Linked DNA regions of Homo sapiens: region 1 is linked to region 2. The links come from fine-mapping of genetic effects on gene expression. A gene starts in region 2. The other region holds a variant in brackets. All regions are shown on one strand. Distances are between the middles of the regions. Region 1 holds the start of FOXO6-AS1 (FOXO6 antisense RNA 1). Region 2 holds the start of CTPS1 (CTP synthase 1).

Region 1 (15,851 bases), 400 kb after region 2:
AAAAAATTAGCCGGGCGTGGTGGCGGGCACCTGTAGTCCCAGCTACTGGGGAGGCTGAGGCAGGAGAATGGCGTGAACCCGGGAGGTGGAGCTTGCAGAGAGCTGAGATTGCACCACTACACTCCAGCCTGGGCGACAGAGCGAGACTCCGTCTCAAAAAAAAAAAAAAAAAAGTCACAGCCCCTGCTCTCAGAGAGCAGAGAAGAGGGAGAGAAGAGGGTCATGTGTATAGCTGCTTAATCCAGTCCTGGGGCCTTAGTAGGACACTTAAGGCCTGGCCACCAGCCCTAGTCAACCTTTCCAGCCACCCTCCCATCTTCTGACCCTTGCCCTAGCCACACTGAACTATTCCAGCTCAGGATTCAACCTGCCATGTGCCATTACGTACATTCTTTCATTTAATTTCCCAGCAACCCTGTGAAGCTGGTAGGGTTACTTTCCCCATTTTGCAGGTGAGGAAACAAAGAATGAGAAAAGTAAGCAGCTTGAACAGTACCCTACTCTAAGTGGCAGAAACGAAACTCTCCAGGACTAACTCCACCCTAGCCCAGGGCTCTGACCTTCCTCCCCTCTGCCCCTTCCCCCTCCCAATCATTGTCTCTCTGCTATCCCTTGGAGTTTGGCCCTCAGGCTTCTGGCCTGGGGAATGGCCCTGGGGTCCCTGGCTCCCATTCCCAGATAGAGAGCACCCTGAAGGTGGGGGCAGACCAGCCTGATGTTCCCCTGGTCTGCAGCCCCCAGGGCTGAGGCAGCTCCCTCCATTCCGTGATCCAGGGCTACATCCACTGGGTACCTATTATGCAGGGCTGCTGGGTGGGGACTGGACTAGCTCCTTGACCTTGAGATCCCAGCCTGCAGGGGTCAAGCTAGGGAGATAAAAGGAGGACACTGACTCTGATGCAGGGTAAAACCTGCTCAGGGTCATGATGGAAGGCCAGATAATGAGCTGAGTGTTTGGAGGTAGAAGAGGGGAAGGGAGACAAAGCAGACAAAGAGGGTCAAGGCCTCAGGACTGTGTGGGGAGCCGCAGAGGGTCTGGCTGTGCTTATGTGGGGCCCAGCAGGCGTTGAAACTGGGAAAGCAAGTGAGTGGCCTTGAAGAGCAGCATCCCACGCTCTGGGCTTCTCACTGCGAATTCTCCATGGGAATGACATGGGCAGAGGTCACTCAAGGGTGCTGTGGGGAGTGGACAGGAGGGAGAGGCTGGCCCAGGTGCCCAGTGTGGGCCTGCTACTGGGGTCCAGGGGAGAAAATGAGCCTGAGATAGGGCAGAGGCCCAAAGAGTCCCAGATATCAGGCCTGGCATAGGCAGCACCCCTTGGTGCCTTGAGAATCCCTTAGGTGAGGCCAAGCTGTGTGGTTAGGAGTCTTGGAGGCAAACAGGCGGGCATAGCCTAGCTCTACTTACCCTCTGCGTAGCCTTGGGCAACTGAGCCTCAGTTTCTTCCTCTATAAAATAGGATAATAATAGGGTCCTTCCTCTAATGCTTCCCTTTCTTGTCCCTGAGACCGAGGTGTCAGATATTCAGGATGTCCAAGTTCCCTCCTGCCCTTAGGTGGGCCCACTGCTTTCTAGCCTCCAGAGCCTTCTCCATAGCCTTGGATGACAAGCAGGACAGGTTTTAGGCACCCCATTTTCACAGATGAAGGACATGTCTTGTTCAAGGTCACCCTTGAACCCAGGACTGCCCGCCCCTGGACATTGGCTCCTCTTTGCCCCACTGGCAAGCTGTGTGACCTTGGGCATGGCCCTTCCCTCTTTGGCTCTGAGTTCCCCTCCCCCAACACTCTGGGAAGCTGTGAGGCCTCTTCCTTCTCTCTCCTGTCCCCTCCCTCTGTCCTCAGCTGGCCTCCTCCTCCTCCTCTTGTAACCTGAGCTGGGGCCCTGGGGGAAGGGGCTTGCCCTCTTCCTGAGGCACCTGCCAGCTGAACAGATGTGCCGAGATGGAGGGCCCCGGGAAGGGATTGAGGGCTCTTAGCCAGACAAGGCTGGGGCCGGGGCTGGGGGAGGCAGTGCTCAGCACATCCTACCCTGGCCTCTGGCCTCTGCCCCTAGGGCTTACTCTGATCACTTGTTCATTTTCCAGTGGACATTTGAGTGCTCCAACATGTCCTGCAAGGACCTCTCAGTCTCTAGGAGAAGACAGATGGCAGATGAGGGCTGGTGCCCCGGTCTGGGTGGGCCGCCCTGGGCTCCTGGAGCCCCTTGGCATGGGGACCAAGGGCAGCCCCTGGGGGCAAGGCCAGTGTCTGTGCGGGTGGCCATGCCCCTGGGAGAGCAGATGGTTCTCTTGGCACCATGCCCACTCTTCCTCTTTCTCCCCCAGGAGCCAGCCTGCAGGGCTGGGGCACAGCTGCTGGGCCCTCCCCAGAGCTGGGCTCAGGGCAGGGCTGGGTGAGGTCACTGCAGCTGCTCCCAGGGCCTGGGGCAGGGGAGTGGGGAAGTGCTGCCTGCAGAGGGAGGGAGGGGCTCAGACTGAGAGGGGAGATGGAAAAGTCTGAATGCTTTGCATTTAGGGGTTCTTTTTAATCCCGAATGAAGGAGGGTCTGTGAAGGGGTTGCTGAACTAGTATGGAGAGTCCCCTTGCCCCTACCCCAGGCTCACGCTGGAGCTTCTGCTTGGCTTTGGCTCCTCTCTGGAGGTCTCTCAGGGCAGGAGAAAGAGCAAGGGCCCTGGGTGTAAATTCCTGCACCACCACTTACACTATGCGACCCTGGGCAAGTCAGTTTGTCTCTTGGAGCCTCAGTTTCTCATCTGTAAAATGGGGACAATAAACCAACCAGAGGGTTGTTACAAAAATTCAATGAGATAATTTTCGAGTGGCAGCACAGGGCATGGCATGTGGTCAATGTCTCAGAAGCAGTAGTCCTTCCCCACTCACTGCCTCACTTTCCCAAGGAGGCAGGAAGTACTGGGGTCAAGTAAGGAGGTGGCAGAGGCAACAGGAGCTGCAGGAGAAAGCAGCAGGGAGGAGGGTCAGACAGGACCCTGGTAGAGGGTGGGCAAGCCTTGGAGCTCTGGCCTGAGATTTTGCTGAACAGAAACTACACAGAAATGCCAGGCATGAGCAGCTCGTGGCTACTGAGGGCTCCATCCTATCTCTTGACTTCTCTTGAGCCAAGGATTGCCCCACAGAGTTCGAGTAGGGAGGCCAGCTCAGACACCACTTTGCTCTGGTTTGCTGTTAGATCTCTACAGGAGCACTAAGGTGGGAGCATCTATCTTTGGGGCTTGCATAGGGGATGAGGAAGGTGCCACAGAGCTAGCCTTGATGGAGGAACAGGAACTGATAGAGCAGAGAAAGGGACAAGAGTAAAGGGAACAGTGTGCAAAGGCACAGGGATGGGGACATCCAAGGTGGTTGGAGGCCCAGATGGCCCTAAGGGAAGGGGGCGATGAGGCTGGAGGACATCAGAGGGCTCTTTAGTATCAGCCTGGTTTTGGACCCAAGCCCGCAGGTGACAAGGACGAATGGGCATTGGAGCAGTGTGAGGTTGGACTTTCGTTGGTGGTTTATTTGCTGCCGAGCCTGGGTGTGTGGGCTCTGCTTTCTCTGGGGGGTGCCAGAGCCTCATGCCTTCCTTTGGATATTGGTTCCTCCTGGCCCCAGGCTGCCCACTCTAGGATCCGCTGCTGATCCTGAGCCCACTCACCTGGAGACATCTGTGTCCCATGGTCCCCAGCTGCCCTTCTATCCCTTCTCCACTGCAGACCCTAGTGCCGAGGATTTGCACATGGCCTCGGGTCCCTGGCATCATCCAGGTCACATCTTTTGCCAGGAAGAGGCCTGGACTGAGAACCTGAACTTCACCCCAGATGGCAGGGCAAGTGACTCTCAGGGTGTCTGTGGCTCTGTCTGACACAGGTGTGTGTTCCTAGGCCAGGCTGGGGCCCCAGAGTTGGGTGGGGGCAAGGGGTAGGATGGGGAGGCTCCTGGGGCTCTGAGACAGGGATGGGATGACATTCTTGACATGTGAGGTTTCATCCAGGTCCCATATGTCCCTGTGGATGCTGGGATTGTTATCTTCGTTATAGTGGAGGCCCACTGTCACATGGATGAAGTTGGGATTCAGTCTCCTGTCTTTGACCTCTCCGTATGCAGGAAGGAAGGCCAGGAGGGAAGGAGGAAATGGGAATCATAGAGGGGATCAGAGCCCTCACCACAGCCCCACAGGAGGTCACTGCAGTAACAGGTGCTGGGTCATTTTCCCCATCAGGTAGTCAGGGTCAGTCTCCTGAGGGAGGGGCTGGGCTGAGCCTTTGACTGTGATGCAACCTGGACAGGCATCCACACCTGACCTTGGGCTTGGGCTGTGATGGGTGGACACAAGATGCAGGGCCGCACTTGGATCCTGAAAGACCCCAGGTACCAGGGAGGCCAGGAGGTAGCACAGGGTTGGTGGTAGGTGGGGGCACAGTCCTTGTCCCCTGTCTCTGATGAAAGCTAGGAGAGCTTGGGCTTGAGCGTCAAGGTGGAGATGGCCACTGGGGTGGACAGCAGAGTGTCCCCTGCCACATTAGGGGTAGGTGTGGGAGAGCTCTGGCTTTGGAATCCAGCAGCCCTAAGACCCAAGCCTGGCTCCGTCATTTCCCAGCTTTGTGGCCTCAGGAGTCATTTAACCCACCTGAGCTTCAGTTTGCCCCCTTTGTAAAATCGCAGTACCTACTCACAGGATGGTTATCAGGATTAAAGGAGCCTAGCCTATGTTAGGCATGTAGTAGGTGGTGCCCTTCTCTGGCTTCAGCATTTGAAGCACATGCCAGTGGTGTGCGAGAGCTGGTTTGCACTGGCTCATGAGGGCTGATCGTGCACACTTCTTCCCAATTCTGCACTCGGTGACGTCATGTGGCAGTTTAAAATTGGCTATGATGTGAGTATCCGTACCACAGAAAGCAGCAACAGCTACAAATCAAATCAGGTAGGTTTTTTTTTTAACTTCCAGAAGAGCTGGTGGTTAAACATTTGCCAGCACACCACTAAATGTGCCCCAGAAAAGGTAACTTCCCCTAGTCCCACTGCCCAGGATCAGAAGAAGATGGCACAGAGATGGCCAGGCAAGTTGGCTCACACCTGTAATCCCAGCACTTTGGGAGGCCGAGGCAGGAAGATCACTTGAGGTCAGGAGTTTGAAACCAACGTGGGCAACATAAGAAATCCTCCTCTCTACAAAAAATATAAAAATTAGCCGAGTGTGGTAGCGCACACCTGTGGTCCCAGCTACTCGGGAGGGTAGGGCGGGAGGATCACTTGAGCCCAGGAGGTCAAGGGTACCATGAGCTATAATTGCACCACTGCACTCCAGCCTGGGTGACAGAGGGAGGCCCTGGCTCTAAATAAATAAATAAATAAATACCCTGGCAAGAAAGAAAGAAAGAAAGAAAGAAAGAAAGAAAGAAAGAAAGAGGAAAAGAAAAGAAAAGAAAGAATGAACGAACCTGGCTATAAATAAATAAGAAGATGGTACAGCAACCATGAGTCCATGTCCCAGAATCCATCCTGTGGGCCCTCTGTAGCCATGGTGGGGACAGAACAGGAGGCAGGGCAATAGTGGAGTTCTGGCTTGGCCAAGCAGCCTAGAACTCAAAGTCCATGGCCCCTTCTGGGCCTGGAGAAATTGGATGGTTATAGCACCAGGCAGCCCTTGTGGGTGGGGGACAGCAAATGAGGGACCTCTCTTTTCTCTACACTCTCCTTTGGCTCCCGGAGATCTGGCAGGCCCTGGCTGGAGGCATAAGATTAGATGAGGTTGAGCTGTTGGAGAATGAAGCTGTGTTGGGAGAAGAAATGAGGTTGTACCGGAAGATCAACGAGGTTGTGCTGTCAGGGAATGAGGTGGTACTTGGGGGCAAGGTGAGGCTGCATTATTAGATAAATGAGGTTGTACTGTCAGGGGATGAAGTGTACTTGTAGTAGAGATGACGTCCTGCTGGATCAGTCGGCTTTTGCTCCATCAGAGAACACAGCCACACCACAGGAGGAAGGAGAGTGTCCGACTCAGAGGATAAATGAGGGTGTCCTGCTGGATAAATGAGGGGGCCCGTCAGGTGAATGGAGTGCTGTTAGCAAATGAGGTTGTACTTGCTGGATAAATGGGACTGGTGTGCTGGATAAATGGGGTTGTGCTGTCAGGTGAATGCATTACTGCTCGTGGGTGAAGGGCATCCTGGGAATAGATGAGGGTGTCCTGCTGGATAGATGAGCTGCCACCACCAAATGGATCAGACCCTGTCCATGAGGGAGGCACCATCAGCAACGACGAGGTTATCCTGTTCCCACTGGGGCTCCTGGAGCGTCTTCTGGCCCAGGGGAGACCTCGGTGTGTGCCAGCCCTGGGTTATCCAAGTCTCTCTGGGGAGCAGGGTGGGGGGCTGGGGAGGGCAGGCAGCTGCATTGTGCACCGTGGGACCTCTCCTTCACCCCCAATGGATGCCCTACTCCTCTCCCTGGCACCCCTCAGTGGGTCAGACTGCTTCGGACATTCTCACCCCACTGCCTGCTTCTCATCCTGCCTGTGTCTTCTTTCTGCCCAGTTTGGAAAAGCCCCTATTATGTGTCAGCCACTCTGCCCAGTCTTATTTAATCTCCCTACAACACAGTATTACTCCTCCTTGCACATACACACTTTCTCTTATTCATTCATCCATTCATTCATTTGACAAACATTTAAGTGTCTAGTATGTACCAAACACATGAGGTACAGTTTTAAAAAGGATAAAAATCACTGCCCTCATGAAACTTATATTCTAATATAAAGATAGGATAAATAATGTATTAATTTAGAATGTGAAAATGCTTTAGAAAAACATAGAGCAGGATCAGGGGGCCAAGAAATTCCAGGGAAGAGGAACAGTTTTTAAGAGAGGTCAGGATGGGCCCCGTTCCAAGAGATGGCATCTGAACAAAGACTGGAAGGAGAGGAGCGATCTCTGTGGATATCTGGGGGCAGGCGGGACCATGCCTGGCAGGTTTGAGGATGGGAGGGAGGGATGGAGCGGGGTACCTGCATGGTCACTGTGGGTCTTGTGGGCCATGGCAAGGCCTTTGTTCCTCACTGTGAGTGAGATGGAGGGTGTCGGAGGGATCTGGGCAGGAATGGACGTGATCTCGGTTATTTGAAGGGTCACTCTGGCTGCTGCGTGGAGTGCTATAAGGAGGTGAGGGAGGGAGCAGGGAGCCATTTGAGGAATGGAGCTTGAAAACATCTTGCCCCAGGGTCATAGCACTCACAGGTGATGGGGCTGAAACGGGGAATCCAGTTCGAACGCTACAGCTGATGTACTTTGCCCTACTCTAGCCTCCTCCCTGGTGGGGGAATCCCTGGGGGCTGGGCTCCCTGGCCCAGGTTCTGAAGGAGAACGGGGTAGGCATGAGATATAACCCACTGTCCTTTCCCTCTGCCCCCAGATGGTCTCCCTCGGGCCCTGAATCAGGTATGTCCTGACTCCCCTAGCAACATGCTCCAGGTCTGGATGTAGGTGTGGGAGGCATGAGGCCCCAGAAGCTGGGCCCAGCTCTGGGCACCTGGGGAGCCCGGGCATGCCAGGGCTGTGGCTGTGGTGGTGGGTTGCTAGGCGACTCTAAGAGGGAGCCCTGGTTACTGCTGCCTGGCAGAGGCATCTCCCTCCTCTGCCTCTTTCACCTCCTCCATGGCCTCTGGCCTCCCAGGAGGCCTTGTGGTGTGAGCCAGAGCTGTGATCAGTGCTTGCCACTGGATCTGGCAGGGAGCTCTGATTGGTACCAGGTGGCTGGGCCCTGAGGAGCCAGACTGGGCTGCAGGGCCTGAGCTTCTCTCATGGGGCACAGCCCTGGAGCATACCTGGTTCAGAGCCCAGCTCAGCAGTCAGAGGCCTAGGTCATCGCTCAGCTCTGAGCCACCTTGTCTGACCCTGAGCAAGGCATGGCATCCCTCTGTGCCTCAAAGACCCCATCCATCTGGCCTGCAGAATCCTCCCCAGGAGCTTCATTTTCTGTGAAAAAGGGTGCTGAGTGCACAGGGATCCAGGTACTCCTGTCCCCACCACCATTGGCTTGAGTGTGTAACGCTTAAGTTTTGCACTAAATCTCATTTACAGAAAGAGTTCCCCTATTTAAGAAAAATGTTTGAAAACCTCTGGACTGAATGATTCTAAGGATTTTCATTGTCAAACTGAAAAGGTTCCCAGAGTACAACTTGCCCATCTCCTTAGTTTATAGTTCAGGACACTGAGGCCCCCAAAGAAGGAGAAACTTCATCTAGGTCAGGCTTGGTAGAGTGGGAGGAACACGGGGCTGGGGGTCGGGAGGCCTGGGCTCACATCCCTGCTCTGCCACCAGGTCTCGGACAGCCTTGGGCAAGTCCTTTCTTCCCCATGGGTTGGGCCAGCCATGGTTTCAGGCTGAGGCCTGAGCTCCAGGGGTACCTGGCTGGATATGGGACAGAGCAGGGAAGGATGCAAACCTTCAGAGGCCTGGAGCTTGTCTTGGCGGTAATTCTAAAACATGTGAATAATGTGTATAAAGAAAATGTGGGTGGATTATGAAGTCTATGCAAAATTTCCTTGAAGTCTAAAAAGGAAGCTTAGACTTGCAGGAAATTTTGACCTGTGCAACATGCCCCCAGACTTCCCCTGCTGCCAGCTTCTAGGGATGGTTTACATGGAAAGTTTGAGGAGCACTGGAATACTGGCTTCCTAAGATTCTTTGGGATTCTCAGACCTGTTTCTGTCTTCCATGGCAGAATGTGATATCCTTTAGACTTAGAATAAGACCAACCTGTAATCCCAGCACTTTGGGAGGCCGAGGCGGGTGGATCATCTGAGGTCAGGAGTTCAAGACCAGTCTGGTCAACGTGGTGAAACCCCATCTCTACTAAAAATACAAAAATTAGCTGGGTGGCAGTGGCACGCACCTGTAATTCCAGCTACTTGGGAGGCTGAGGCAGGAGAATCACTTGAGCCTGGGAGGCGGAGGTTGCAGTGAGCTGAGATCGTGCCACTGTACTCCAGTCTGGGCTAGAGTGAAACCCTGTCTCAACAAAACAAAACAAAACAAAACAAAACAAAACAAAACACCAACCTGAAATCAATACATGGCACAGCACTTAAGCTGTGTGACCCTGGTAACTCACTTAACATCTCTGAGCCTCACTCTCCGGTTATGAGATAGGGATCACAATCCCTGACTTGTGTGGAGTTCATCTAATGATTACATTTGATAAAGTACTTAGAGTGCCCAGGGCTGAATGGGCAAGCGCTTGCTAGGTGCTGGTACCTGGTACTGTCCTTCCTCCAGGACATAATGACATTGATAAAGAGGTGTTGCCTGAGTGACCTCCAGCTGGAGAAATGGGGAGGTGGGAGGTGGAGCCTCTTGTAAGCCAGACAGTCCTATGGGGGAGGAGAACTGAGGCCTCCTAGGAGGCTGAACACAGGTGTTGGGGAGGGGCTGGGGAGCCAGGTGCAGGGGTGGGAACAGGAAG[G/C]GGGTATCTACTTGAGGGAGCACTGCTCCCTGGGGGCCCAGCTCCCCTCCCCTCAGGGTCTCCAGAGAACCAGGCAGGGCAAGGCTGGCAAGTCCCAGCTGTTGCCTTCAAAGGCCAGAAAGTGCCAGAGACAGGGAGCCTGGGGCCCTGAGGAGTCAGATCAGTGCCTGGAGCTGGGGGTGAGGGGTGGGAGGGTACCCTGGGCAGCAGGAAGGACCCCTCCTCCAGGAGACTGGTGGGAAGGAGGCAGGAGGGAGAGCCTCACAGAGCAGTGGCTGTGAGTGTGGCTGGGTGGATTCACAGGTTAAGAGCAGGTCCATGAGCTGGGCAGAGCTGGAGTGGTACCGGGCATCGTTGCCTAGCTGTGGGGCCACGGGAAGTTACATCATGCCTCTGGGCCTCCGGTCCCTAGTGTATGAAATTGGAGAATGCCAGCTTCCCAGAGTTGTTGGTGCCCAGCACAGTTGCACACAAGGCATGATGTTAAAGAGATGGAAACAGCAGGTCTGTTGGGGGACCGAAGGGGTGAGAGCTTCTGGCCAGAGTGAGGATATAACCAACGTTTATAAGCACCTGGTGTGCAAATACTTATTCATGCACATGTAATGATCTTACAGCCTTAAGAGGTAGTTACTGAATGTAGCCCACTTTTTCAGAGTAGTTCACTGAGGCTCACAAGAAACTGAGTAAACACCCCATGGTCACATAGCTAGGCAGCCAAAGAGCCAGGCATCCTGTCCCACCCTCTGATACCCAAGCCCCTGCTGTTTCCATAGCAGTACCTGGACCAGGAAGTTGAGGCCACCAGGTGGGAGGCCCCAGAGGTGGGGTGCCGCAGGCCCAGCAGAAGTTCTACTCCAGATTCCAGTGGGGCCAGTGGACTTCCTGCCTTCCTCTGTCCTCAGAACAGGCCTGGCAAAAGCAGGCAGTGACATGGGGAGCACTGGAGACTGGCACAGCAGAATTAAAAAGAGGATGTATGGAGAGATGGCAGAGGTGAAGCCCAGGGAGGAACCGAGGGACAGCAGAAAAGGCCACCTTGGGCAAGCCATTCCTCTCTCTGAGCCTAGGTCTTCTGGCGTGTGAATGGGGACTTTGCCACACACTGTGGGGATTTTGAGAAGGCTCCAACAGCAAGGGGCTTGGAGGGCAGGCAGGTGGGTCAGGAGAGGAGGGCAGGGTGCAGCCCAAAGGGCAGGCAGGAGAGCTGGGCTGGCCTGAAGGTGGGCACTGAAGAGGGTGAAGGCTGAGGTCTCTGTGGCAAAAGGATGTCTTTTGAGGGGCCTGCTGGAATCCAAACCCTCTGTGGAGTTCACAGCAGCTAAGAGGAGTTGGGGTGATACCTCCGAAAAGTCTCAGGCCTGGACCCACCTTGGGGACCCCAGCCTACTCTGTTTCCCCTGGCCAGGCCCTCCCAGCAAAGGGTTAACAGTCTTCTCTACCTGCAGTTGCATTTTAAAGACACGAAATTAAAGCAGGTAATTTATTCTCCCCACACACGAAAGAGCAATTAGTTCTAAACAGGGCTTAATCAGTCACCGCGAGATTGATTTCTGGAGCCCTGGGTTTTCGGGCTCCTGGCGCCACGCCAGGCTGGAGAGGGAGGGGGGCGGACAAATGAGCCGCGGCGGCATAAGCCCTTACGTAATCTGCTGGGGGCCCTGGCAGCCTGGTTAGCCCCGCGTGGGGCTTGGCTGAGCTGGGGAGACGGGGTCCTGCTCCCTGCTGCAGGCCCCCCGCAGGCTCAGAGTAGCCCACAGGGTTGGCCATGCCCCCAGGGAAAGGCTAGGCCCAAAGCTGTGGCCTCACCCTCTGGGCAGTCTCTGTGTGGGAGTGGGGAGGGATGGGGGGTGCAGTTCTGGGGCAGAGGGTGGGTACTCTGGGTTTGTCCAACCCGGTACTTACACCTGTCCCCTCCCTCTCCCAACCCCCTTACCTCATCCTCATCCCTATCTCCCTCCTCCTCCTACACTCTCTTATCCTCCCCCTCTTCTTTCCATCACGTCCCCTCTCTCCCCATGGCCTCCTCACCCCCCGACTCCCACCCGCGTCCTTGTCTCTGGCCACAGAACTCCATCCGGCACAACCTGTCGCTGCACACCCGTTTCATCCGCGTGCAGAACGAGGGCACCGGCAAGAGTTCGTGGTGGATGCTGAACCCCGAGGGCGGAAAGACAGGGAAGACCCCGCGGCGCAGGGCCGTGTCCATGGACAACGGGGCCAAGTTCCTGCGCATCAAGGGCAAGGCGAGCAAGAAGAAGCAGCTGCAGGCGCCCGAGCGAAGCCCGGACGACAGCTCCCCGAGTGCGCCCGCCCCGGGGCCGGTGCCTGCCGCAGCCAAGTGGGCCGCCAGCCCCGCCTCGCACGCCAGCGACGACTACGAGGCTTGGGCCGACTTCCGCGGCGGCGGGAGACCCCTGCTCGGGGAGGCGGCCGAGCTGGAGGACGACGAGGCCCTGGAGGCCCTGGCGCCATCATCGCCGCTCATGTACCCAAGCCCCGCCAGCGCGCTGTCGCCGGCGCTGGGCTCGCGCTGTCCGGGTGAGCTGCCCCGCCTGGCCGAGCTGGGAGGCCCGCTGGGCCTGCACGGCGGCGGCGGCGCGGGGCTGCCCGAGGGCCTGCTGGACGGCGCGCAGGACGCGTACGGGCCGCGGGCCCGCGCCCAGGCCCGGCCCGGTGCTGGGTGCGCCGGGGGAGCTGGCGCTGGCGGGCGCAGCCGCCGCCTACCCCGGCAAAGGGGCGGCCCCGTACGCGCCGCCCGCGCCCTCGCGCAGTGCCTTAGCCCACCCCATCAGCCTTATGACGCTGCCCGGCGAGGCGGGCGCCGCGGGCCTGGCACCGCCGGGCCACGCCGCCGCCTTCGGGGGCCCGCCCGGCGGCCTCCTGCTGGACGCTCTGCCGGGGCCCTACGCTGCCGCCGCCGCCGGGCCGCTGGGCGCCGCGCCCGACCGCTTCCCGGCCGACCTGGACCTCGACATGTTCAGCGGGAGCCTCGAGTGCGACGTGGAGTCCATCATCCTCAACGACTTCATGGACAGCGACGAAATGGACTTCAACTTCGATTCGGCCCTGCCTCCGCCGCCGCCGGGCCTGGCCGGGGCCCCGCCCCCCAACCAGAGCTGGGTGCCGGGCTGAGGGCCGCCTCCCGCCTCCGGGCGCCCCGTCCCGTCCCCAGGGGGCCTCTGTCTTCCCATCCTGATTCCCGGGTCCCTGCCCCCGACTCTAGCTCCCCAGGAGGCGGCCCCAGCCCAGCTAGGGACCCCTCTCGGAGGCCGGCCGCCGGGGAAGGGGAGGGAGGGGCCGGGGCACCCCACTGCTCCTGCCCACACTCCTGAGATCCACCCCCTTCTCCTGGGCAGGAAGCCTGGGAGAGGAGGCTGAATTCCAGGCTGGCTGGGAGTAGGGAGGAGCGGGGTGGGCCGCCTGGTGTGGACGGTGGTCGGGGAAGCCAACTAGGAGATGGGCCAGGGAGCGTTTACAAATCTTCAGTTTCATTTGCGGAGGCCTAGCCGTGACCCCGCGCCCACCCCAAACACGGATCTGATTCCCACTTGACACACTTTCCCACTGGTCTTAGTCTCACCCACCCGAAGCCAGCAACCCTCTGCGGAAAACTCACACCTACCTATATCCATCCACCCTGAGCAGCCCTCCACCCCCAAATCGCCCTCCGACGACCGCCACCCCCACAGTTCAGTCTCCCCCTCCCATCCCTGCCGGCCCTCGCTTCTCCCCTCCCCCGTCGGAGTCAGTCCCTCTCTTCAACCGCCCCCACCCCCTAGTACTGGTCTCAGCTTCTGCAGCGGGCCTCAGCCCCGTCCACCCCCAACCCCGACGCCCCTTTCTCCGCGCCAGTTCTGGCCCTTCTCCCATATTTATAAGTGTCCGGCCGGGACGGGCGGTGGGCGCGGCGTCCCCGGCGCGTATCGTAGGCAGTGTACCGTGGCCGTGCCGTCAGAGTGTGCGTGTGCGTGTGTGCCGTGTCGAGGCTGTGTAGAGTGCATTGTACAGCATATTTTCATGAATAAAATTGTTTTAAATATTTCCCGCGCCTTGGGCTAGAGGAAGGGGAGTGGTGGCGGAGGATAATTGACAGGGAACTTGGGGCAGGGGGAGGGTTCATGTGCCTGAGTCACTATTGTGGCTTTTTGTCTGGGTACTCGTCAGCCTTTGCTAAACTAATGCTCCTCTGCCCGGCACATATTGGTTAAGCGCCTACTGAGTCCCCCGTGCTGAAGATGTGCTTCGTCGAGCTCTGCACCTGTTTCTGTGAACATGTGCATGCACGAAGTTTTGGCCCAGGAAAATGCGTCCTAAATAAGCCTCAGAGATTGGGAGAGGATGCACAAATATTTACTGAGAACCTTTAGTGCCAGGCTCTGTGTTGGGCACGATTTTTGTTCCCATTGTACAGATGAGAAAACAAGGTCAGAGAGAGAAAATGACTTGGGAAGGAGGGTAGAGATGGTGAAAAGAGATCCCTTTGAGGTGCACAGACTGCTGTTGGAATCCATTTTCTACAGTTTGCCAGCTGTGTGACCTCGGGCAAATTTTCAGCCTCTGAAGCCTTGTCTTCCTGGACTACACCATGGAATAGTAGCATCCATCTCATGAACTTCTGTCAGGCATGAGGAAAGGTATGGAAAGTGTTCAGCGCAGGTCCTGCACTCGTTCATTCCAGGAAGATTCGGTGAGCACCTGTTAAGTTCTTATACCAAGCATTGGGGCTGCCCTAGAGCCACACGGACACAGTCTCTACTCTTAAGGAACTTAGAGGCTCCTGGGGAGAACAGGCCAGCAAATAGGCGATTATAGATCAAAGCTGTGCTGATCGGAGGAGGAGCTGGGGGCTGTCGTGGGAATGAATGATGGGGCAGCACTCATCTTGGACTTGAGTCAGGGAAGGTGCCTGGACTGGTGCTGCCTCAGCTAAGCTTGGTAGGAGGAACTGGCATTGGGAAGGGGATTTAGATGAAATGGCATGTTCAAAGGCCCAGAGTCAAGAGGTGTGTGGATTCCAGAACCAAAAGCAGTTGAGTGTGGCTAAAGTTCAGAGAGGGACAGATTACTGATGGCAGGGAGGCTAATGGGCCAGAGGGTTCAACAGTGGAAGAGGGACAGTGTGGCCCAGCCAGAGGTGCTGATGTGGCTCAAACCAAGTTATGGGGGAGGACAGTGGGGCTGCAAGGGAAAGGATGAATTCACATCTACTTTGGATATGGAGTCATTGGGGACTTGGTTGTGGATTGGACCTGGGGGATGAAGGACAGGGAAGCATCAATTGATGCTTGGTTTTTGTTTGGGTATCTGGGGAGACAGGGCCATTCCTTGAGATGGGGCACACCAAAGCAGGAGGAGCCCTAGGGAAATTGATGTGCTCATTTGAGCTATAGTTCATGAGAATCTTTGGGATTTGGAGCAGAGGGAGGGATGTTCAGGAGCATACACACTGCGTGAAATGACATTCTCTGGCACTGGGCAACATAGTGGCCCTGAGGTGTCCACTTGCATAGTGGGGTCAGAGCCCAGAAGGTGTCTGGGCTGGAAAGGGAGGTCAAGAATCAGGAACACAGAAGGTGTCACTGAGGGGTTGGAAATGGCTTGGGAGGGGGAGGATTGCAGAGTTGGAAGAGCAGGAAGTCCAAGTCTGCTTTGATGAACATCTTGGCACAGGAGGGACCCACTGGCTGAGAGGAGAAGAGAAGGAAAACCAGGACCCCAGGGGATTGGGGACGGTGTCCTAGAAAGGAATACCCAATGTTCTTGCCTTCTGGAGCCTCACTTTCTCGGTCTGAAAGATGGGGCAGTAGCACCTGTTTCACACATTTGTTTTGAGGAGTAAATAAGATAGGAATTATTGTGTGAGGTCACACTATTGGCAAGGGCCAGAGCCCCTGAGTGTGTACCTCCAACACCCAGGCTCTCGTGCAGCCCCCACTGCCTCTGATGAGGTGGCTGAGAGCAGAGGAGCAGAGGAACTCAGAGCCAGTAGAATCCGCACAGATTCTGGGCTCTGAGTTGGGGCTGAGACCCAACCTGGTATGGCGGGTGTCCCTGCCAAGTGGGGAGCACATAGAGGCTGATGGCCCCTCCCCTGGGACAGATGCCCCAGCCCCACCCTACAGCCAGCCTCTGAGACAGCCCAGCTGGGTGTGGGCTCCATATGGGCTGCAGAACTGCCCCCACCCTAGGCTGACGGAGGGTGGGCCGCTGGTGTGTGTGCGCAGGGCTGTGTGTTTCCATGTAGTCCCATATGTGTCTGTCTGTGTGGGCCTGTGTGTGTGTGTCTGTGTGTGTGTTAGGGGTTAGTGAGTGTGCTGGGCAGGTGGGGTGGTGCTTGAGGTTCTCCCTGCCGAGTGTGCACATGGCTGGGCGTGTGTGTGTGTGTGCG
Region 2 (15,851 bases):
TCCATCTCCCAATTTGTGCATGGCCTCATACATCATAGAGTGGTTTTGACTTTATCCCGAAGGTAATGGAGTGTCATTAAAATAGAAAATTCCTATTTTTCCTTTCCTTTGCCTCATTTTTTGCTCACATTTTGTAGACACACACACAAGTGACTTTAAATCCTTTCTTGAACAAAGTGGTTCACACCATTCTCCTGCCTCAGCCTCCCCAGTAGCTGGGACTACAGGCGCCCGCCACCACACCAGGCTAATTTTTTGTATTTTTAGTGGAGACGGGGTTTCACCGTGTTAGCCAGGATGGTCTCAATCTCCTGACCTTGTGATCCGCCTGCCTCGGCCTCCCAAAGTGCTGGGATTACAGGCGTGAGCCACGGCGCCCAGCCCAATTATACACTTTTAGTTATTTAAAATGTACAATTAAATTATTACTGACTATAGTCACCCTGTTGTGTTATCAAATACTAAGTCTTTTTTTTTTTTTGAGACAGGGTCTTACTCTGTCACCCAGGCTGGAGTGCTGTGACATGATCTTGGCTCACTGCAACCTCTGCCTCTGTGGCTCAAGTAATCCTCCCACCTCAGCCTCCCCAGTAGCTGGGACAACAGGCATGCACCACCAGGCTCAGCTAATTTTTTTGTACTTTTTGTAGAGATGGGGTTTTGCCATGTTGCCTGGGCTGGTCTGAACACCTGCACTCCATCAATCCACCCACCTCGGCCTCTCAAAGTGCTGGGACTACAGGCGTGAGCCACTGCACCCAATCTACTAAGTCTTATTCATTCTTTCTAACTATATATTTTTTGTACCCATTAACCACCACCTTCCCCTCTGCCTCCCTTAAAATATAATTTGGTAAGTGCTATGCTCTGGGACGTCCCAGCAGCAATAAAAGAATGGGAGAGAAGTGCTAACCCCAAATGAGGGAGAGAGTCTGCCCAAAAAAATTACTTTGGGGAAGTGAAGACCAAGTTGAGATGTGATGTGATGTTAGCAAGAAAAAGGCAGGAAGCAGGGGGGTAGGTGAGAGCCAGCAGAGGTCTATGCAACGATTCATATGTGGAAAAGAATACATGGCATGTTCAGAGAACTGAAAGAATCATTGTGGCTGGAGCATGGGGTGGGTGATGTGGCTAGAGAGGTAAACTGAGGCCAATTTTTGCATGGCCTCATACATCACAGTGTGGTTTTGACTTTATCCTGAAGGTAATGGAGTGTCATTAAGATGAAAAATTCCTATTCTTCCTTTCCTTTGCCTCATTTTTTGCTCACATTTTGTAGACACACACACAAGTGGCTTTAAATCCTTTCTTGAACAAAGTGAGGACATAAACCAACAAATTCACTAAATAACATAATTACAGCTAGCTCAAGTGATGAAAATCCAACATCATACAGTCATATTAAAATAACATACAGCCAAAAAGAATATCTACATATGCACAGAGTGTGCTTGAAGGATAAACCAGAAACTGGTAATAGTGGTTGCTTCTGGGAGGAAACTTGGGTGGCTGGGGAACAGGTATGGAAGGAGAGCTTTTACTGTGTATTCCTTTTTAACACTCGAATTTTACGCCATTTACATATCTATTAGAAACTAAATAAAACATAAATAGCCCCAATCTGGGAAAAAAACAACAAATCTATCACTAGTTGTAGGCTCCCTCCTGCCCCATTTCTCAACCAGATAATCCATTAGAATGCCAGACTAGAGTGACAGCGTATTCATATAAAAGTAGAAAGCTCGAGGAAGTCCTGGAGAAGAAAAAATAAGCAAGACTTGATGATGGGCAGAATGAGGGACAGAAACAGAAAGACAATCCAAAGCAAACCTTCGCGTGTGCTCTCAGGAAGGTGTTTACATGTGTTCAGTCTTGGCTCCATCGTCTGTAATATAGTAATAATGACAGCACTTGCATTATAGGGTAGTAGTGGGAGTTACAGATGCTAGATGCTGGTTACTAAAAGGTCCACAAGACGTACTTGATAAGGAAAGTGACACACAGAAAGGCTAAGTAACCTCAAAGAGATTCCAATCTGGTATGGAGGAGACAGATAAGTGAACAGGCAATCTCAGCAGGCTGTGATAAACGCCTCAGAGGAAGCACTGGGTGTGCCACGGAATGTGCGGGAGGCACCCTGTCTTAGCCTGGGTTCCCTAGGAAGAAAGCCGGAGGTAGGTTCTTGAGTCAGCGAGTGACTGAGGAATAACCTCAGGTGAAGACTGTGAGGGAGCGAGGGGAGCATGGGGCGGGGAAAAAGTGAGACAAAGATATGTGTTTAGCTCAGGAGTTGGCACATTTTGGCCTTCAGACCCAAGCTCTATTTCTGTAAAAGAGTATTTTGTGAACACAGCTATAGTTCTATTGAAATAAGTCACATTCATTTAATCGATATATTATCTATGGCTACTTTTGCACTATGAAGGCAGAGTTGAGTGATTGCAAGAGACCATATGGCCCACAAAGCCTAAAATACAGACTGGTTCTTTTCAGGAAGTTTGCCTCAGCCTGATCCCACGGGGAGCTCTAGAGCACCAATGGGATCATAGAGTTGGCCCACGTGTAGGCGAGGCGCCTGGCTCACCTCAGGACCTGGGCTTGGAAGAGAACTTGGGGTTCAGGACACATCCAGCCTGGGAACATCAATTTGGGAGTAGTCAGAATAAGGATTTTTTTTGTTTGTTTTGTTTTTTAGACGGAGTCTTGTTCTGTTGTCCAGGCTGGAGTGCAATGGTGCAATCTCAGCTCACTACAACCTCCGCCTCCAGGGTTCAAGTGATTCTCCTGCCTCAGCCTCCCGAGTAGCTGGGATTACAGGCCTGCGCCACCACACCCAGCTAATTTTTGTATTTTTAGTAGACGGGATTTCACCATGTTGGCCAGGCTGGTCTTGAACTCCTGACATTGTGATCCGCCCACCTCGGCCTCCTAAAGTGCTGAGATTACAGACGTGAGCCACTGCGTCTGGGCCAGATGGTTTTAATGACTAGATAATGACTTTAGAGAGAAGGGATCCTAGAACTGAGGCTTGGGGCAATGTTTATAGTTCAGGATAGAGGAAAAGGAAGAGGATCTAGGTAGGGAGATCTAGAAGGAGAAACCTGTGAAATAGGAAAAAATGAACAGCAAGTGGTTTCCTAGAAGCCAAGTAAAGGACACCCACCTTTTAAGGAGGAAATGATCAGCTGTGACAAATGCTCTTAGGGAAGTGGTCAGTTTGGGGGCAGCTCTGGGGCTGTATAGCTGCACCTAGGAGCCCAAAAGGAGACTGGGCCTATGGTGGGGGAGAGAAGCAGCCCAAATATGTAAATACATACACATGCGCACGTGCACACACACATATGCATTCATGCCATGCACATACAGCCACACTGTTGTCTATTTTTTTTTTTTTTTGAGACGGAGTCTCGCTCGTCGCCCAGGCTGAAGTGCAGTGGTGCAATCTTGGCTCACTGCAACCTCCGCCTCCCAGGTTCAAGTGATTCTCCTGCCTCAGCCTCCTGAGTAGCTGGGACTACAGGCGCCTGCCACCACGTCTGGCTAAGTTTTGTATTTTTAGTAGAGACGGGGTTTCACCATATTTGCAAACTGGTCTCGAACTCCTGACCTTGTGATCCACCCATCTCAGGCTCCCGAAGTGCTGGGATTACAGGCATGAGCCACTGCGCCCAGCCCACTGTTGTCTTTATTTGGGACTTACGGACATTAGAGATTGGAGTCTAGGCTGATGTACAAAGAAGAGGTCTGAGAACATGGAGGTTAATTTTTGACGAGATCAGTTTCAGTGAAATTATATGAGCAAAATATCCAGATTGGAATGAGTTCAAGAGAGGGAAGAAATTGAGACAGCAAAGTACAAACAACATTTTTTAGGAGTTGTGCTGAAAAGTGAAACAGAAATGGAGGGGGAGCTAGAGAATGGCATAGAGTCAGGAGAGGGGTTTTAAGATGGAACAAATTGCAGCATGTTTGCATCACGGTAGTGGAAAAGATCTACTAGACAGGGAAAGACTGATGACGCAGGAAGGGACATTCTACTAGACATTCTTGAGTTGATGAAAGGATATGGCACTTGCATACTAGACATTCTTTGAGTTGACAAATGGATATGGCACTTGGAGCAAAGAGGAGGTTGACCTCTGGGAGTGTGGGCAGTTTGTCCACAGTAACAGGAGACAACGCAGAGCTTGTGCGCAGATAAAAGTGGTTGGTGGATATGAAAAATCTACTGATGGCTTCTATTTTCTCGTGAAATGGGAAGCAAGACCACCAGCTGAGGAGAATATGGGGGAGGAGATGGAAGAGCTTTGAGGAAGAAGACAATGTCAAGTGGTCATTCAGAGGAGTGGTTGGGTGAATGGCTCATTTTTCCATCTCCCATAGCATCTTCATTACCTCAGCAAGTATGTTCTCAGCATCTGTTATGTTCCAGGCACTTTGATAAACATCAAATGCTTCTTGAAAGAAGATGTGGCTGTAGAGTACCTTCAAAGACAACCCAAACTTTTTTTTTTTTTTTTTGAGATAGAGTCTCACTCTGCCCAGGCTGGAGTGCAGTGGTGGGATCCTAGCTCCCATTGGCCTTGAATTCCTGGGTTCAAGCATTCCTCCAGCCTCAGGCTCTGGAGTAGCCAGGACTACAGATGCGTGCCACCATGCTCAGCTAATTTTTGTATTTTTTGTAGAGATGGGGTCTCACTATATTGCCTAGGCTGGTCTTGAACTCCTGGACTCAAGAAATCCTCCCACCCTGTGTCAGCCTCCCAAAGTGTCAGGATCACAAGTGTGAGCCACTATGCCTGGCATTCCAAACATTTTTTAGATTTGGAGCTGAATGCAGCATGGGCAGGTTGTCAGGGTTGAAGCACTGGTGATCCAGATCTGGAAGGAGCCAGAAGCCTCTAAAAGAGGCCACTGCAGGAGCCTCCTGACCTGGTTTCTGGGAATCCATCTGCTTCAATGATTTTCCTAAAACACAAATCTGATCCCATCACATCTTTTTTTTTAAAACTCCTTCAGTGAAGATAGTTAAGAACTTGTGGCAGACTGCTTCTAGAGAACAAAACAGGAACACTGGGGTACAGAAATAAGAGATTTACTTTTCATGGATACCCTTGTGTAGTGTTTGGGGAAAAATTATAACCATGTACATATATTCACTATTCAAAGGAAGGTCAAAAGCCTCTCAAAAGTTTCTACAGCTTTCCACTATCCCTAGGAGAAAGAGAAGCCTTTACTTGGTCTATAATGCTCTTCACCGTATGGCCCTACCCAACTCTTCAACCTAATCTCATGTTAATCTCGCTTCCTGTGGCCCTTGTGGACTTGGCTAGACTGGCCTTCCAATTCAGCTGTGCCGGCCTCTTTGGGCTTGTACACAGGCTTTTCCTTCTGCCTCACTTTTAAAAAAAAATTATTATTACTATTTTTATTTTATTTATTTATTCTTTGAGAAGGAGTCTCGCTCTGTCGCCCAGGCTGGAATGCAGTGGTGCAATCTTGGCTCACTGCAACCTCCACCTCCCAGGTTCAAGCTATTCTCCTGCCTCAGCCTCCTGAGTAGCTGGGACTACAGGCACCCACCACCACGCCCAGCTAATTTTTGTATTTTTAGTAGAGACGGGGTTTCACCATATTGGCGAGGCTGGTCTTGAACTCCTGACCTTGTGATCCGCCTGCCTCGGCCTCCCAAAATGTTGGGATTACAGGTGTGAGCCACTGCGCCCGGCCTACTATTATTATTTTTATAAGAAACGGGGTCTCGCTATGTTACCCAAGTTGGTCTCGAACTGTTGGGCTCAAGCATGTCTCACTTTCTTATCCCCGCCTCTCCCTTTCCCATCTTTGCCGTCTACTTAGGTCTCTGCTTCAAAGTTACTTTTTCAGGGCGGGCTTCCCGCCTGAATTCCCAATCACCACCGGACTTGGGTCAGTCCCCGCGCTGGGCACTCACTGCCCCGGCACCAGCATCTCTGCAGCAAGCACCCATAACAACCATAAAGTGTAATGAGCTGCTCAGTGTGCCTCCCTACATCGTTAGTCCGAGGAGAGGGTCCCTCGGTGCCCAGCACAGTGCGTGGCACAGTCGGTGCTCAGGGAGCGATAGCTAGATGAAACCGTACTTTTCGGGATCCTAGTCCATCCAAAGCAGCCGCCTTCGGGGCAGGTGTGGGGAGGAGGGAGGCCGACGAGGAGCCAACGCCGCGCGACCCTCCGCACTTCCGTCTTGGAGGCCAGGGTGGCGCTGCCGCCGTCCCTCGCCCGGAGGCAGAGATGCGCTGGCGCATCACCGCCAGGAGCCCACAGTGAAAGACCATCGGATGGAAGGCGACGCCCAGAACTCCAGGAGACCGCTGTGGGAGGACGCGAGGCCAGGTGACGAATAGGCCAGGCGTGAGTTCCCAAACAGCCTCCTCCCCTTCAAGAGAGTAAGCTTGGGCCACAGGCTGGGACGGAAGCAGAGGGGCAGACACGCCACCACCCGCCCGGCCTCGAACCTACGGCGGCACAGTTCAGCGGAGGCGGCCCAGCGGTCCTGTCCCGCGCCTGCGCACTCCAGGCCCCGCCCCGCCCCGCGCCCTCCAGGCCCGGCCCGCCCTCCAACCTCTGCGTGCGCACAGCCTAGAGCCCGCCTCCGTGAAAGACTGCCGGGCGCATGCGGTCGGGGTTGTTCACTGGCTGTCCGGGGCTCCGCGCGCGTCGCCGGCCCAGCTCTGTCGCTGACGGGAGGATCTGAAGCCGGCCGCAGGTAGGCTGACTCCAGGGATCCCGGGGGGGATCTGTTCTCCCGCGCAGGAGTCAGCGGCGCGAGCTGAGCCCGGCGCCGAATAGCCCCGCCGCCGCGGTGACGGACGTCGCTCCTACCAATCAGGGGCGAGGTGACTCGGCGTCCTGCCCAATGGGCTGTGTGCCTAACGGGAGTGGGGCGGGCGCCCCGGCCGGCGAGCTGCCGGCTCCCGCGCGCGGGCCTCGTGGCCGGGCGGCGCTGGGGAGAGGGGCCAAGCGGGGCGCGGGGCGGCTTCAGAGGCTGCGGGGCCTGCGCTGCCGCGCTGGGCCGCGCCGAATCAGCTCGGCCGGGCTCGTCGGACGGAGAAGGCCGTAGGGGAGTGGAGCGGCGCCCCCCCCCACACCCTCCGCCCTTGCTCTTCGTCTGCGAGGAAGCCCGGCAGTCGCCCATCCATTCAAGCAGTGCGGGCCTCGGGCCTCCGGCCTCGGCGCGGGCTCAGCCGCCCGGGGCTGGGCGCGGCAGCTCCGCGCCGTAGGACGAGGGGGCCTGCGAACTCGCCGGCCCTGGGCCCCGCGGCTGGCCTTTGGGCCTCACGGCTTCCTCCCTTCCCGGCGGCCGGGGGTCGGGGCGCTGGCGGTGTATAGAGCTCACCACGTTTGCGTGGCGCCCTTCCGTCCACGCTCGTTACAGTTTCGAATCCTCAGCGGCCCTGTGACGCGGGCGGCGCAGAGATTCTCACCCCCATTCCCCTAGGTGAGAACCCGCGTTGCAGGCAGCTCAAGTGACATGATTGAGGTCTGCACACTAGTGATGGGGGCTGGCACTTCATCTCATAACATTGAAAGAAAAAGCATTTCCCCCCTCAGTCTTTGTTGAATTTCTCTGATGCGTCTTGATTTACGTTACTTCTGTGCCGGAAAACCTTCTTGCGCCTTCCGTCACCTTCAGGATTAAGTTCAGATTGGGCATGCCAGTTTGCACATGATCTGGCCCTTGCCTACCTTTCCAGTTTATCTTCCACTGTATATCCCTGCTTCCCCGCCTTCCCCCTCACGGCCTTACCTCTGTTCTCTGTAGCTGCCCTGCACCTGCCTGTTCACCCTGTTCCCTTTCCTGTGCTCTGAGTCGTGCAGTCAGTCCTTCAAGGCCCATTGCAAGTCATATCTACAAAACAGGAGCCGCCTGGATCCGCCCACTACCCCCAGGACTTGTCTCACCTTCCTCTGATGGCCATGGTACTGAAAGCGTCTGCTCTCATCGTCCCCCTTTATAGTCTAAACATGTTTTCTGTCTGCTTCCACCGTCACTGAATTACTCATTTATTTGTTAATGTTTCATCTCTCCAACTGGACTGCCAGAAAGTTGAGATATGGGCCCAAATCTGATTAATGTTTGCAGTCCCCAAGCACAGTAGCTGTCATGTAAGTCAGTAGCCCATAAGGATGAATGAATGAGCCTCCCGCCTGATCTTTATGTACACTGGCATATGTATTGCCAGGCACTGAGACTGCAAGAATCTAAAGAGAGAAACTAAAGAACGTAAAGAGAGATGTTAAACTCTTAGAGTAAAATTGGGACAAATCAAATGTAATTGGATGAGATGAATCTTTTGTAGAAGTAACTCACTCGGTGGCAGAGGAATTTCTAGGATCATCCAAAACTTAGGGAGACCAGGGTATAGTCTCAGTAAGGTATATGTCTGGTTAGAACATATCTAAAATGTACCTAAGACTGATTTTCATGTGTCAATAAGGAACTGTAAAGTGAGAGACTTAGGGTCAGATAAGCTTGGAGACACCGCATACTGTATAGCAGTGATCACAGTGCGAGTTTACTTGCTAAACACTCCCAGGATTCTTGCGTTAAATGACTTGGTTTAATCAGCGTTTCTCTGATTTATATCCATAACACCCTTTTTGAGAATCCCATGTGCATTTTGTTGAAACCAGGGAGCATGCTTTTGGAAATGCTGCAGCAGAGGATGCAAAGAGCCTTTGGAGCGGGGAAGACTTCTGAGCATTCTTCCTTCCCTGCCAAGTGTGTTCTTTCTTGCTCTGGGGAGGGGGTGGGGCGGGGGAATGCTTCGAGCACAACTCCTTAGTTTTCTTGTTCCTTAGTTTATTTTTATCATAATTTGGCTTCACATGGAACGTTCCTGAGGAGGAAAATGTCCTGACCATGCCAAAGTAAGCATTTTCTGCTACTTTCTAATTGTGTTTTTCATTTTGGTCACATTTGGGTTTGCTGACCAAATGGACGATCCTGGACCTCTGAAGCTGGGGACCAGTGATAAATCCTCCGTGGTGAGCCTGTCACGGTCTCCTCACCTCTTGTCGATGCTGTTTTCACCTGCATCTTGACTCTGCTGCCCTTATATCTTATTTCTCCTTTCCCTGCCACCGTGGCACTGCTTTTTGGATTTAATCTCATCTCCCCTCTCTTTGAGTCCTCTGCCCGTCATGTGCTTCAGACTGGTTTCTTATCTGATGTCCCTCTCCCCCAGTATTTACAGTCTCTCTTCATTGCATGCCTGGGAGAGATTTCTGACAAGGAGCAAGTTGTTGTTAAATTATAGAAGAGAACTACTTTTTCTTTTTTTTTGAGGTAGTCTTATTCTGTCGCGCACGCTGGAGTGCAGTGGCATGATCCCAGCTCACTGCAACCTCTGTCTCCTGGGTTCAAGCGATTCTCCTGCCTCAGTCTCCTGAGTAACTGGGACTACAGGCGTGCGCCATCACAGCCGGCTAATTTTTGTATTTTTAGTAGAGATGCGGTTTCCCCATATTGGCCAGGCTGGTCTCGAACTCCTGACCTCAAGTGATCCTCCTGGCTCTGCCTCCCAAAGTGCTGGGATTACAGGCATGAGCCACCATGCCCAGCCAGAGAACTACTTTTAATTAAAGGAATTTTGGTTTAGCTGCAACCACTTTTAAATGTTGATGTTCTTTCCTTTTAGTCTATCTTTTGTAACCTAGAGGAGCTGTGTTTTCTTGATGATATGTTGTAGTTTAGCCAAAGACATTATTTATTTCCTGGAGAACTGGAGTACTTATCCAAGTTTGAATTTTTTTCCCATGTAGGGAAAATAATGAGGCACCTGCCTGGTATCCCAGTGTCTGGCAGTGATGTCAGCAAACATTTGGGGTGTAGTGTTCTATCAGCCAGCTTAGAGCTGGTTTTATTAGGTTGACTCTGAAGGTTATTAGTTGTCAAAGCTTTAAACAAAAGCTGTGTTATTAGAGTAGCAGTTGTTTTTCTACACGTATTTGACTAAAGCCATTCAGTGATCCAAGAAATGTTTGTTTTGATCCTATTTAAACCTGACGAGAACCTTCTGAAGTCCTGTGACAGAGAAACTGAGGCTTCAAGAGGGTTCATAGCTAATAATTGGCAGAGCCAGTGTTTGAACCCAGATGAGTTTGGTTTGTTGAGATACATTTATATCATCTGTAATTTTTCCTTCTTCCAGGTCAAAGAGTAAAATGAAGTACATTCTGGTTACTGGTGGTGTTATATCAGGAATTGGAAAAGGAATCATTGCCAGCAGTGTGGGCACAATACTCAAGTCATGTGGTTTACATGTAACTTCAATCAAAATTGACCCCTACATTAACATTGATGCAGGAACATTCTCTCCTTATGAGCATGGTAAGCACAGTGGATTTCTTCATAATAATTGCATGTGGCAGAACATGTCAGCACTTGGGAATTATGTGCACGGTTTGCATAACTTTTATTTTCTGCCTTCTAACAGGTCCCTTAATACAGCAGAATGATACTTTTCTCACCTAGAAAGGAAGAAGCAGAATTCTTTTTTTTTTTTTTTTTCTTTGAGACAGGATCCCACTCTGTCCCTCAGGCTGGAGTGTAGTGGTGTGATCATGGCTCGCTGCAGCTTCCACCTCCTTGGCTCAAGCGATCCTCTCACCTCAGCCTCCTGAGTAGCTGGGACTACAGGTGTAAATCACCATGCCTGGCTAATTTCTAAATTTTTTGTACAGGTGGGGTTCCACTGTGTTGTCCAGGCTGGTCTTGGGTCCTCCCACCTGTAATCCCAAAGTGCTGGGTTTTATAGGTGTGAGCCACCATGCCCGACTGCCTTTTACTTCTTTGTTGTTATTGAGAACCTGTCAATGGTGTGACATACAGCTGTGGCTGTTACTTCAAAGATTAATTGCTTAAAACTGGGAGAGATGTTAAAACATACCTCTTAAGTTTTAAAATTCTGCATTCGTACTCCTACTCTCTAGCGTTGAGGTGAAAATATGCAAGCATTAAATGTCACTAGTGCAGAAATCCTCGTAACAAATGGCATCAGGAAAAGATCCATATACCTGAGTGATATTTAATACAGAATTCTTGAGCAGAGGATGAGTTATCTCTCTGAGGGAGAAAATGAGACTTTTTTTCCTTTCCTGTGTTTGAGCTTGTCTCCTATTGTGATGGTAGGAATGAATCATTCTGGGCAAAATTTCTAGAGTGAAGTTTCATGGAATGAATGTGCAACAAAAGAATGGGGTAAATATGTGCAGTTTCACAAAGTTGTTTAGAACAAAAGCAGAGCTCGGAAGCTGATTTTTATAATCAGCACAAGCTTAATATGCATATATCCAGGTTTTGAATCAAATATTGTTATCATACTTTAAACCATATTATGCTCAATTAGGAGACGTTTCTGAAGGTTCTTTTTCCCTAAGCAGCAGATGCTGTATACTACTGTAAAGTCCTGTATGCACAGCCCACTGGGCTGTCATTTCTTCCCATCCCATGCTATTTTATAACTCTTCTTAAGAATGAGTTTGTTGACAGGCTAGAAGTATGAGGTTACCTTTTAGAGAATAGCTGGTAATTTTTCTTTTTGTGTGTCATATTTAGTCTTCTAGAAGTGAATTTCTGTGCTTCCTATTACGTAATTGCACACCTTGTTAATGAGTGTTTTATTTCAGGATTGCAGTTGTGCCATGGTATAGGTATTTTTCACTTAACGTAAATGGTTTCTCTGTTCACTGCAGGTGAGGTTTTTGTGCTGGATGATGGTGGGGAAGTAGACCTTGACCTGGGTAACTATGAGCGGTTCCTTGACATCCGCCTCACCAAGGACAATAATCTGACCACTGGAAAGATATACCAGTATGTCATTAACAAGGAACGGAAAGGAGATTACTTGGGGAAAACTGTCCAAGGTAATACTGGATTTACCTTTAAAGCTTAAAAGTCTTAACCAGTTTAATTTCTTCTCCCTCCCACCTCTACACAGATGTGTAATTCCCTTTTGAGTACAGAAGTTTACATTGTATGTGATTTCAGCATGAAACTCTCAAGGTATTGTTACTGAAATATGCCTTCAGTTGAAAAATCAGAATTATATTGTTGTTTGCTAAAAAAAATAATTTGAAGAACTACTTCTTCGTTGAAGCTTGTCAATTCTGCTAAGGCAGCATGATACGAGTCCAGAGAGCTGTTGTTTTTACACAGTAATGAGTGTGAAAGTGGTAAAGGCAACTCGATTAGGGCATTAAGCCAGATGGCATGTATGTGTGCATCTGGGACTTACTATGTATAGAAGTGAGAAGGAAATGAACATCTATTGTGTATACTGGTTTCCAGGCCGTTCATCAGTGCCATATGGCCTAGGAGGAGCCTGAGAAGTGGGTTTCTGGGTCCTCCCAAGCTTTCACTGGCACAGCTTCGCTTACATCTATTTGCTGTTTTGGGGTTTTGTACAAACATTCATTTAAGGAAAATGTTTTGCTGCTTTAAAAAGGTGGGGATGGAAAACTACTGATCTAGTATAATGGCAGTGGCCCAAATTTGGAGAGGTTGCTGAAAAGTGGCTTTAATCTGAGTTATGAGAGCAGATCTGCTTTTGGCTTTAGACTTTACTGGCCTGAAAGCTGAGGGTCACACTGACAGCTGGCTCTGGTCTGGGGCTGCCCTGGCAAGATTCTGGGCTAATTGGGTCATGTTTGGATCTTAGCTTCCCCTCTCACCAGCTTTGTGAACATGGGCAAATTAACCTCTTCAAAATGTGGATTCCTTTTCTGTAAAATGGAGACAATAACAACACCTACCTCTCTAGGTTGTTAGGAAGATTAAAGAAACTAAAAGTCAGTGAAGTGTTTCCCTGACTTCCTGACACATAGAAAGGAATCAGTTAGGAATTAGAATGGTTTTGATCTTACAGTTTGCTGTTTATTTATTCATCATCCATCAAATTTGCATTGAATGCTCACTGCAGTCAGACCCTCACTGGTGCTGGTGATGCATGTGATGAGCAAGACCAGAGAAGTCATTGCCCACATGGAGGTTACCTGTGGGGGAGGCAAACAACAAACATGAAACAAAACGAGACGTCTGTCAGAAGCTGTGAAGAAACCAAGTGGAGTGAGGACAGAGTGACTGGGGAAAGCCACTTTGGGCAGGTGGTCGGGGAGTCTCCCAAGAGAGGCCATTTGAGCTGAGAGGCCAGTCACAGCGAGAGTGGAATGAGAAGTGCGGAGGCGCAGGGCTACGAAGGCGTGGTTGGTCCGGGAATGGAGGGGAGGCCGGCATAGCTAAGGCAGAGTGACTGAGGGAGATGGTCAGAGAGCGGGGGTGGTAGCCACAGCCAGGTTCTACCCAGTCGCTGGGCCGCAGCAAGAAGCTAGGAGTGTACTCGGAGGAGTGGGAAGCCACCGAAAAGTTGAAGTGTGGGAGTGATGAATTCTGACTTGAATTTTAAAAGATCACTTTGACGCCATGTGTGGAGTAGATAATGAATATTCTTCTGCGTGAGGCAAATGAATATCCTTGTGCATGAGGCATTGCTGTAACTGGAGTAACCTGGAGTTAAACAGTAATCTTCACCTTTTAGGAACTTGCCATCTGTGCCCAACAACTATGATTTTTGAAGTGTTGAGCAATTGCTGGCATTCTTTGAGCATTGACATGGCAGGCACTTTACCGAGCATTTTACAGGTGCTGTCTCACAAAATTTCCACAGCTTAACAGGTGGGGAAAACAAGCTTAAAATGGTTCTATAATTGGCCCAAAGATCCACAGCTAACGAGTCATGAGACTAAGGTTTGAATCCAGACATTCTGACCCCGGGTGCTGTGCTTCTAACCACTCTGCTGTGCTGTGCTGGCTCACTGCAGTGGATTGTCTACCCTTTGGTAAACTGGAAACATATGGAACAGGGTCCCAGAAGTCTCTTGTTCCTGGAAGTGCACTGAAGTGTAATGTGCCTACCTTCAGCTGTGAGCAATAGGGTTGGCTATACTGGTGTGTGGCCAAAAGGGTAGACTCTGCACAGGGGCACGTGCGCCTGTGTGGCTCAGGACACTGCTGTCAGCCTTGCTCTGTTGCAGGGCTTCCAGCAACAACTTAGACATCTGGCTGCAGGAAGTGTGAGCTCAGAGATTTGTTGAGGCCAGTTAAAGGGGGCCTCAAAAGTATTTTTATGACCCTATTGCTACTCTCTCCAGGCAAAGAGTGCTGCAGTTTGTTTTCACAGTAAGTGCATTTGTCTCAATCAATGTAGATGGACAAGCGTAAGTTCCCTGTTTGTTTTCTTTTTCCCAGTTGTCCCTCATATCACAGATGCAATCCAGGAGTGGGTGATGAGACAGGCGTTAATACCTGTAGATGAAGATGGCCTGGAACCTCAAGTGTGTGTTATTGAGGTTTGTATGATTCCTGCACATGTGAACAAGTGTACTCATCTCCTTAGTCAGCCATCAATAACTGATAAGACAGTTCCCAGTGGAGCCCTTGGCCTTCCTATCTCTGGTGCAGTATGTTGCAATGTGGCAGGTAAGGGCACAGTTAACAGTCATGTGGAATGGCCACGCAAGGGAAAACCGTAGTTTGCCCAGTGTTCCTTTTTTGTAGCATTTATGGTACAATCACTTAGTACTGATTGTCCCCATGAGTAGTGTGACACATTTTCATCTGTCTCTTGAGCAAGTCAGCAGATCTTTTGCTTTCGTCTGGCAAGAGCATTCGTCTCCGAATGAGCTTCATTTGGTTTCAGTATCTGTACTCCTGCTGTGCTGATCCTAGCTGTTGGATCTCAGTGTTCCTCAGATAACAGGAGACTCAAAAGTTCCAGCAGTTTGTTTATAACTAATACTTTTTTTTTGAGACAGGGTCTCACTCTGTCACCCAGGCTGGAGTCCAGTGCAGCAGTCATGGCTCACTGCAACCTTGACCTCCTGGGCTCAAGCAGTTCTCCTACCTTAGCCTCCCAAGTAGCTGGGACTACAGTGCGCACCACCATGCCCGGCTAGTTTTTGTACTTTTTTGGGAGAGGCAGGGTTTCGTCATTTTGCCCAGGATGGTCTCTAACTCCTGAACTCAAGCCATCTGCCTGCCTTGGCCTCCCAAAGTGTTAGGATTACAGATGTGAGCCACCGTGCCCAGCCAACTGATGCTTTTTCAGTACAAAAATTATTTATGGTTAACTAAGGAGATAAGATTTAGGTTTTTCTTTTTTTTTTTTTTTTACTTTGTCACTGTGATAGAGATAACATTCCTGGCACCTCTCTCATCTGACCTTTTTCTTGAAATGATGTGGAAAGTTCCATAATAACCTTTGGGAAGGATGAGCCTGTCCAAAAGAATAACCTTTTAGTACAAAGAGTTGTCTAATTCCTGTTAACTGTTAACTAACATTATACAGGGTTAGAGAGTCCGTGTTACATAATTACTGATACTGAATCAGGAAGACAGAACAGTTGTTAGAAAACTAAACTGCCAGAGAAGGGTTTAGTGCCTAACCTCTGAAACAACTTTGTTCTTCTAGCTTGGTGGAACCGTGGGGGACATAGAAAGCATGCCCTTTATTGAGGCCTTCCGTCAGTTCCAATTCAAGGTCAAAAGAGAGAACTTTTGTAACATCCACGTCAGTCTAGTTCCCCAGGTAAGTAAGACATTGAAAGTTTTACTTTGGGGGAGATGGAGAGGAGGGAGGAAAGGTAAACCGGAATGATTTTCACTCATTGTCTAGTAGTTTTCACTTGAGGTGCAGGAAGCAGAGAATAAAGAACTTTGTAAGTTTAAATTTGTTACAATCATACTTTTTTGAAAAGATCAAATAGAAAACATTTGAAAAATCAGGGCAGTTGCATTTGCAGATGTAGAT

What was found. PIP is the estimated chance that this variant, and not a neighbour inherited with it, causes the effect. A credible set is the group of variants that fine-mapping cannot tell apart.
Region 1: its variant is the best candidate, but not a certain one, in a credible set for the expression of CTPS1 in putamen (GTEx, PIP 0.89).

Annotation. Positions count from the first base shown.
Region 1 is chr1:41,370,087-41,385,937 of GRCh38, forward strand. FOXO6 (forkhead box O6) reads left to right here. Exons shown (of 3, transcript NM_001291281.3): 2 at 11,530-12,122; 3 at 12,124-13,504. The coding sequence ends at 12,595. FOXO6-AS1 (FOXO6 antisense RNA 1) reads right to left here and starts at 5,583. Exons shown (of 2, transcript NR_135817.1): 1 at 5,439-5,583; 2 at 4,918-5,166. RefSeq lists enhancers at 490-1,389, 1,390-2,288 and a silencer at 12,151-12,200. The variant G/C (reference allele first, on the strand shown) is at 9,461.
Region 2 is chr1:40,973,082-40,988,932 of GRCh38, forward strand. It overlaps CTPS1 (CTP synthase 1), which reads left to right and starts at 6,615. Exons shown (of 19, transcript NM_001905.4): 1 at 6,615-6,748; 2 at 10,197-10,375; 3 at 11,740-11,910; 4 at 14,291-14,391; 5 at 15,513-15,629. The coding sequence starts at 10,210. RefSeq lists silencers at 1,896-2,190, 6,404-6,593, 6,864-7,153, 7,224-7,363 and an enhancer at 7,564-7,613.